Linked DNA regions of Homo sapiens. The protein of the gene in region 1 purifies or fractionates together with the protein of each later gene. This does not show direct contact. Each region holds a gene or a part of one and is shown on either strand. Other genes may lie near its edges.

Region 1 (4,199 bases):
ATGTAACAAGTCCAGCTGCCCTCAGTCCTTTATGCTGGAGAGACCACATTGAGGCACTCTGGTCAAACACAAGCCGAGTTCATCTTTTAGCCCATCTCCTCCCAAGCAGTAGACATGTGAGTGGAAAAGCCATCTTGGAAGCGGGCCCTCCCAGCCATCAAATCATCCCAACAGAGGCTACAGACATAATGAGGCAAAGGCCCACCCACTCAGTTCCCCTTTCAAATTCCTCACCATGAAATTTATGAGCATAATACGGTGATTGTCCTTCAAAACCACTAAGTTTTGGGGTGGTTTGTTAATAGAACAGTAGATAACGGGAACACCTTGAATATGTTTTTCTATGCTTTTATTTTTCCAGTGTTTTATGTATTTTTGTTTTGTGTCTCTTAGAAATAACAGCTACTCGGGAGGCTGAACCCAGGAAGTTCAAGTGAGAATCACTTGAACACAGGAGAATCACTTGAACCCAGGAGGCGGAGGTTGCAGTGAGCCGAGCTCGCACCATTGCACTCCAGCCTGGGCGACAGAGCGAGACTCCGTCTCAAAAGAAAAAAAAGAAAGAAAGAAAGAACATGGGTTTTTTTCCCCCAATCTGAGAGTCTCAGAATCAAATTCCTGAGGAGGAAGTGAAAACCTTTCACAGTTAGTATGTATGCACAGTAAAGCCCGAAACCGCACATTAAGTCTTTCTGCCTTTAGACCCACATCTTCCCTGCCCATTCTTCCTCTAGGAAATCTGGCGCCCAGTTTTCTCTGCGTAGTTGGCGCGGGGCTTCAACTCCCGGCGCTCCTCCAGCTACTGGCACCTCCCTGGCCTCCAAGACGTCTACCAGACCTGCGTCTGCCCGGGGAAACTTTGAAGTTCCCTTCGGAACCTCGCAGGCTGACAAGCAAGTCAGAGCGATGGGTGGAGGAGGTTGCCATGGAGACAGGTCCAGGGCCAGAGGCGCGGGAGGGGGAGGCGGCAGCTTGGGCTCCGATTGGCTCTGCGGGCGCGCAGCGTTCCTCTGGCGCACATGCGCAGTGACGCCGAGGCGAGGTCGCGGCTAAGCAGAGGCGCCGGGGTTTCTGGGCCGGGCTTCTCAGGACCGGGCTGGAACGTGCAGCTCCTGGCCGGGACACTCTGTGCTTTGCGGGGAAGGGAAGTGGCGGAGCCCGAGGATCCGCTGCCGCTCGGGACTGAGCCCGCCACGCAGGCGCCTGTGCCAGCGTCGCCATTGTTGCCTGTGGCCTTAGGGCCGCTCCGGCTGCCCGTCGGCCGGGTCCCAGCGACAGGTATTGATGTCCGGGCGCAGCGCGCGAGTGTCCGCGCGATCAGTGACAGCCCGAGCCCGTCCACGCGCGGGCTCCCGTGCTCGTGGCTTGCGGGAGGGCAAAGACGGGGTGGAGGCTGCTGTGGGCCCAGTCCCAGCGTTGCGCGTCGCACGGTCCCCGACTCCCCCGCTGCCCTCGACCTCGACCCTGCGGCTGAAGAGGAGTAAGAGGCAGAGGGACTTGGCCGGGAAGGGGAGGCGACAGGAGGCAAGGCAAGGCTGTCGCATCACCTCCGCAGGGCCTTGTAAACAGTTGTCTTTGGTGGCACGACTGTGCCTCAGCAGGGCTCGGAGCTGGAGCCTGGGGAGAGGTGGTGTCGGTTCTCCTCCAGATCAGGCCGGTTCTAAGGTTTCCTTCGAGAATCCTGGTTTCGAATATATCCCTAAAGAACTGTCTCCTATAGAAGCACTTAAAGGACTTGAAGTCACACCAACCTCTTCACTCTTTTCCAGTCCAACCCGCTGGTCTTCCCAACCCTCTGATAGTGAAAGGCTAGAATCGGCTGGCATTAACATGCAACGCAGATAAATGGCTCGCCCTTTCCCCTGACAGTTCCCTTGGGAACCTTGAGCACTGTATTAAGAAGAAATTCTCCTAGTTTCTTCCAAGTAACAGATTCACTTTGTTATTGTTGAGAGTCCGTTCAGTCATTACAGCTTCTGTAACATCAGTGACTAAAATAATGAAACTATTTTCTCTATAAAAATGTTTAATTTTTGTTACAACAGGTTAGAGGTTTAATCTGTTGTTTGGCTTAGATTCGAGTCATTGCCTCTGACACTACCTTTTTAATAGCAGCTCCATCCCCCACCAACCCCAAGCAGATGGCAGTTCCCTTACAAGTCTAAGGATATAGGGGAGGAAGACAAGGTAAAGCTTATGTGTGTTCATCTATGCACACTGCGAGTCTGTTTCTGTGTGTGTATATGTATAGTAGAGTACACCAGGGATTCTTGACCTTGTGGTCCATGCTTGTGTTTCAGGGTCTCTTATCCATCCCTGCAAGTTCTGGGCTCAGAATTTGTCACTAAGGCTGCTAACTCTACCTTGATTCTGTTCTGCCCTCGGCTGCAGCAGCCTTTGATATAGTGTCCTTGTGACTCTAGCATGAGACTTCAAGCAGTTGGCTCACTACTGGAGAAATAAAGGATATTGCCAGATTGACTCTCCTGTCTGTAGCAATGTTAGCCTCAAGCAAGAGGATGAACAGTTCTTCACGTTCTCAAATCCTTCTAAGGTGGAAGTCAGACAAGGCTCAGAGTGGACCCTACAATGTTGAGAAGGAAATCCTTACTTCAAGATTCTTGCGTGACACTGAGACCTGTCGACAGAATTTTAGGAATTTTCCATACCCAGACCTGGCTGGTCCTCGAAAGGCATTGAGTCAACTCCGAGAGCTCTGCCTTAAGTGGCTGAGACCTGAGATTCACTCAAAGGAACAAATTTTGGAGCTGCTGGTGCTGGAGCAATTCCTGACCATCCTGCCTGGTGAGGTTAGGACTTGGGTAAAGTCCCAGTATCCAGAGAGCAGCGAGGAAGCAGTGACTCTGGTGGAGGATTTGACTCAGATTCTAGAAGAGGAAGGTGAGAATCATAGAGCAGAGAGGGGAGGAATCCCTGGGTGGTTAAAGAAGACAACTAGCACATCTGAGCAGCTCCTTTAAAGAAATCAGGGAGAGCACTGAGAGGTCCAGGATGCATTTTTTAAAAAGAAAGAAACTGGGGAGAACAAAGGTTAGTGAGTGAGAACAAGGCTTTAACATGAGCTCCATCCTGCATGGTGTTCTCCTTCCAGATTGCTTGGGAGCAAACACACATTATCTAAACCCCCAAGAAAAACGTCTTGAAATAATGACCAGACGCAACCAAATTACCACTGTGTGAGCCCTCAGAAAGTACCTTCAGAGGTTTGCACCATTCTACTAATAAATCATTTGCTTTGTGAATTGAATTTTACAATAAAATACTTCCAAAAAAGGAAGAAAGGGTCTAGAGAACATTCCCTTATTAAGAGATAACTCACAAAATTAATATCACATAAGGATTTAGTTAAAATGTGAATTTTGTTCATACTCTTTAAGATTTTTAGAGCGAGCTTGTTTTTGAAGTCTGTTTTGATGTCTTAGGACAAGTCATTGGCCCTTTCCTCTGATGCTTTGAAGTAGGAGTGCTGTTTTTGATTTCCTTCTTACTTCTCGATTTAAGAAAGTGTAGGCATCTATTTGGTGAGGGGTTTCCTAGGCTATTCAGAAAGGACTAATCTCCCTCATGACCTCTTTCTCTTCTCTAGCTCCTCAAAACTCTACCCTTTCCCAAGATACCCCAGAGGAAGACCCCAGAGGAAAACATGCTTTCCAGACAGGATGGCTAAATGACTTGGTGACCAAAGTGAGTGTGACTGTCTTTTCTGATTTTAAAATGCCTTCTTAGTGTGTGAGGACATTTTCTGACCTGGCCCTATAACTACTGTGCCCCCAGAAGCTCTATCAAGGACTTAAGCCCCAGTTTCTCTCCTATGTTATCTTGGTCTGTTAAGGTAGGTGAATGTACTATAAAGAAAAGGTGCTTCCATTGCCTTCCCTTGATATGTCTTTCCTTACTTTGACTTTGTCAGCAATATCACATAGAGAATACGAGATTGACCTCCACAGCCAGATGGATTTAGGTTTTGTTTCCCGGCTCTACCATTGGAACTGCAATTTGGGACAAGATACTTAACCTCTCTTAGCCTGAGTTATTCTACTCTCATAAATAGAATTTACCTCTTAGGTTGTGAGTATTAAATATTATGAGACTTGTAGTTAGCCTGGATTACAGTTAAGCAATTAATAGATGATTGTTACTATTATTTTTCCTCATTAACAAGTAGTTAAAGGCCATGC
Region 2 (4,437 bases), on another chromosome or scaffold:
AACAAGAACAACAGAAAAATAGCGTGGGCGGGGTGGCTCACTCCTGTAGTTTTGAGGCCAAGGTGGGAGCATTGCTTGAGCCCAGGAGTTTGATACCAGCCTGGCCAACAAAGCGAAAGCCTGCCTCTCCTAAAAAATAAATAAATAAATAAATAAATAAAAATGAGCGGGGTAGAATGGCACACGCCTATAGTTCTGAGGCCGAGGTGGAAGCATCATCTGAGCCTGAGAGGTTGAGGCCAGCCTGGGCAACATATCGAAACCCGGTTTCCACTAAAACGAAACAAAACAAAACAAAAAATAGCTTGGGCAGGGTGGTGCATGGCTGTAGTCCTGAGATGGGAGGATCCCTTGAGTCCAGGAGCTTGATGCCGGCCTGGCCAACATAGGGAAACACGGTTTCTACTAAAAAAAAAAAAAAAAAAAAAAGCGTGGGCAGGGTGGTGCATGCCTGTCGTCTCGAGGCCATGGCGGAAGGATCCCTTGAGCCCAGGACGATGAGACCAGCCTGGCCAACATAGCAAAACCTGGTTTCTACTTAAAAAAAAAAAAAAAAAAAAGCGTGGGCTGGGTGGTGAATGCCTGTAGTCCCGAGGCCGAGGTGGGAGGATCGCTTGAGCCCACGACGTCAAGACCAGCCTGGCCAACACAGCGAAACCTTCTCTATTAAAAAATCAAAAAATAAAAAATATTAGTGGGGGTAGGGTGGTTCGCGCCTGTAGTCCCAAGACGGAGGCTGGAGGATTGGCCAAGGCAGATGTAACCAATACCACAATCACATCCCATAAGTAAATACATTTTCCTCTCTTCAGGGCTACAGGTAAAGGATGGTAATTGTGCGCACCATACTTAAGATTCCCTTTCAAAAATGTAAGCAGAGGTTGCGGGGCCTTGGACTGTTTTTTCAGTGGCAACAGACATAGAAGCCACTGAAGAATGAAAGCCACGACTAAGTATAGCAAACCTCCGCAAATGTGCTAGTTTGGAAAACATCGTGTCTTTCAAGTAGAAAAATCACAGATTGACTATTTTTTTCTTCCCACAGTTCAGACTAGAATCCAGATTTTTAACCCAAGATCCAGGAACGGTCTTCAGAGAGTTCAAAATCTGACGGCGCCTGAGGACCACCCACTTTTTCGCAGTGGCAACAAAGTGTGGCTGGAGGAGGAGACATTATTCTGCTATGTCACTGCCCAAGGATGATGGACCAATCAGGGCAGTTAGTGAACTCCATCTGGCCAATTAGAAGTCAGAACAGTAGGCGGAACAAGCGAAGCGGATGTGGCTTCTATCAGTCCCGGCTCCAGGGACGGAACCTTCTCAAAGTGGGGGTGGAGACTCTAATTTTCCCGCCTAAAGCATCCCCTGGGATTGGCTACTTTAAGTTCAGAGTACGCATGCTCTGACTTTCTCTCTCTTTCGATTCTTCCATACTCAGAGTACGCACGGTCTGATTTTCTCTTTGGATTCTTCCAAAATCAGAGTAAGCATACGCCGATTTTCTTTTTCCATTCTTCCTACCCCTCCCCTCCTCCGCGGTGCATTTGCTATCTAGTTTTAATAAGGAGTGTATATGAGGCAGGCCGCCATCTCGAATCTTTCCTGTCAGTTTCTAACTTTTTCAGGTACGGGATTTTTCCTAGGAACTCTGTAGTAACTTAAGAAATTTGGGCCGGGCGTGGTGGCTTACACTTGTAATCCCTGCACTTTTGGAAGCCACAGCTGGTGGATCGCCTGAACCTAAGAGGCGGAGGTTGCAGTGAGCCATGATCACGCCAGTGCACTCCCGACTGGGCAACAGAGCGAGACCCTGTCTGAAAAAACAAAAACCAAAAAAGCTCACTCAAATCTTTCCTCCTGGGCTCAAGTGAGCCTCTCGCCTAGGCCTTGGGGCTACAGGCGCGCACCACCCCGCTTCTGCTAAATTTTGTTTGTTTTTTTTAGTAGAGATGGTTTTGCTACGTTTGCGAGCCTGGTCTCAAGCTCCTGGGCTAAGGCGATCCGCCCACCTTGGCCTTCCAAAGTGCTGGGATGGTACAGGCCTGCTCCACCAACCCCAGCTAACTTTTTGTGTATTTTGTAGACGGGGGTTTTGCTGTGTTTCCCAGCCGGGTCTCGACCTCCTGGGCTCAAGCGGCCTGCACGCCTCGGCCTCCCAAAGTGCTGGGATTACAGGCGTGAGCCACGGCGCCTGGCTGATTGCTGCATCTTGAAATGCCCCACATTCTCTCTAAGTGATGGCGGGCTCTTGTAGTCTCAGAAATTCTAGCTCTCTTCCTTCTAATAATTTACAAATCACCGAGTAATAGCCTCTGAACACGTTCATATTAGCGATGCTCATTTCTCTTCAACAGAACAGAACCCCCCATCCCTCTGCCTGATCAGATCCATCGCCAAAGAGACCATGTTATCTCTGGGACTAACTTCCCTTCCTTTATTTATTGAGTGGGGGTGTCAGCATGCCCCCACTGAATAAAATTACACAGTCATGTCCCTGCCTCCCCAAAAAGGGTCCGTACATCTTTCAGGGTAAGCCTAGCTCCAGGGAAACTACTAACAACATTAGCCAACCCCCTCCCAAAGACTCAAGGCTGCTTTGCCCATAGGAAACCTGTCATTCCCTATCAATACTTCTCCCAGAGACCCCTGGTTCCCTGTTTTCATCTGATTTCTCCCCATATCCTTACTCAGGGACAGATAAGCCCCGGATGGAGAAATGCAGCAGCTGATTCCAGGTGACTGAGGGTGGCCGGCCTTCACTGACTTCTCCCTCCACAGGATCAAAGCTGCTGTGGCTGGAAAGACTCAGGCTATTTCTCTTGCAGGTCAGACTGCTCCCGGTGCCATGAACGGAGACGACGCCTTTGCAAGGAGACCCACGGTTGGTGCTCAAATACCAGAGAAGATCCAAAAGGTGAGGTGACCTGGAGGGAGCAGAGTAGTGGCCCAGGGGACAGTGTGGGGTGACCCGGTTTCTGAGGAGGGGAGGACAGAGATACTGGAGACAAGGAGCAGGGTCTCGGGGGAGATCTGGACCCTTGGGAGCCTCCCACCCTCGCTCTGTCATCACCTAGCATCCCTGGAGACAAGTCTGTGACCTTGCACTACATCTGGTGACTCTCAGTCCATTCTGGAAGGTGGGAAGAGAGCCAGCCAGCAGCATTAAAGCCCTACTGTGTGGCAGGGGTGAAGCTAGGGAAGGTCCCTCGTGTTCTGTCAGTTAGCCATGGCATCAACCAGGAAGGATTATCATCCCCAGTTCCCAGATCTAGCACACAGGAAGCGGCTCCAGCTGAATGGCAGACATGCCTAGCTGAGTCCCTGCCATAATTCCTTTTTTTTTTTTTTGTAGGCCTTCGATGATATTGCCAAATACTTCTCTAAGGAAGAGTGGGAAAAGATGAAAGCCTCGGAGAAAATCTTCTATGTGTATATGAAGAGAAAGTATGAGGCTATGACTAAACTAGGTAACAGAAAGTTCTGGGAACAGACAAGTCTGGGGACACATGAGCATCCCTTTTCCTGCTTTGGCTACTTCTTAGGCTGCAGAAAGTACCTCACATTTTCCTTTTGTGCAGGGAAAAATCGCAAGGCAGCTTCTGGGTGTTCTGCTCTTCTGTATCCTGTCAGGGCTGAGGGCAGGGACTGGCCACAGTGGAGCTTATACCTGGATCCTGCACGTTTCTCTCCCTTAGGCTTCTGTTCTGATGAGCCCAACTGTCTCTGTGGCATCCCGGCAACCCCCCTACCCCCACCCCACACACACCCACCCTACCTTCTCTCGGCTTGTCTCTTCCTTTTTTTTTTTTTTTTTTGAGTCAGTCTCAGTCTGTCACCTAGGCTAGAGGGCAGTAGTGCAATCATAGCTTACTGCAGCCTTGAATTCCTGGCCTCAAGCAATTCTCCAGCCTTAGCCTCCCAAAGTGTTGGTACTACAGACATGAGCCACCATACCAGGCCCAAGCTTGTCTCTTAAGGAATAAACATTTTGCTTCTTTCTAGGTTTCAAGGCCACCCTCCCACCTTTCATGTGTAATAAACGGGCCGAAGACTTCCAGGGGAATGATTTGGATAATGACCCTAACCGTGGGAATCAGGGTGAGTAGATGGGAAGGGGCTGGAAAGGGTCTCCTCAAGCCCAGCTGCTTTTCAGCTCAGCTACCTGAGAAAGATCCTCAGGCATTTGTTCCCTCATACACATCAGGGCTGAGTGAAAAAAAAAAAAAAAATTGCATGCAGAAAGTTAACTACAGAGGCCATTCATATAAAATTTTAAAACATGCAAAAGAAGAATATATATTTTATGGATAATAAGTAAATGGTAAATGTATACAAACATGAATGTGAATAAAAAGCCATCAAATTAAGGTGACTGGCTGTAAGTGGAGGAGGGAGGGAGGGCGGGCAGGGATTACTGAGTGCGGCACAGACAGCTTC

Evidence for each region.
Region 2: the proteins of ZNF287 (region 1) and SSX2B purify together in Homo sapiens (affinity purification with mass spectrometry, with the first as the bait; one large-scale study listed by BioGRID). This does not show direct contact.

Annotation. Positions count from the first base shown.
Region 1 is NC_000017.11:16,566,031-16,570,229, reverse strand, and holds the start of ZNF287 (zinc finger protein 287), read left to right. Parts: upstream 1-1,529; intron 1,530-2,115; exon of another isoform or gene 2,116-2,187; intron 2,188-2,300; 5' UTR 2,301-2,498; coding exon 2,499-2,901; intron 2,902-3,607; coding exon 3,608-3,705; intron 3,706-4,199. UniProt on the Homo sapiens protein: May be involved in transcriptional regulation.
Region 2 is NC_000023.11:52,749,836-52,754,272, forward strand, and holds the start of SSX2B (protein SSX2), read left to right. Parts: upstream 1-1,416; 5' UTR 1,417-1,483; intron 1,484-2,825; 5' UTR 2,826-2,845; coding exon 2,846-2,914; intron 2,915-3,352; coding exon 3,353-3,467; intron 3,468-4,002; coding exon 4,003-4,098; intron 4,099-4,437.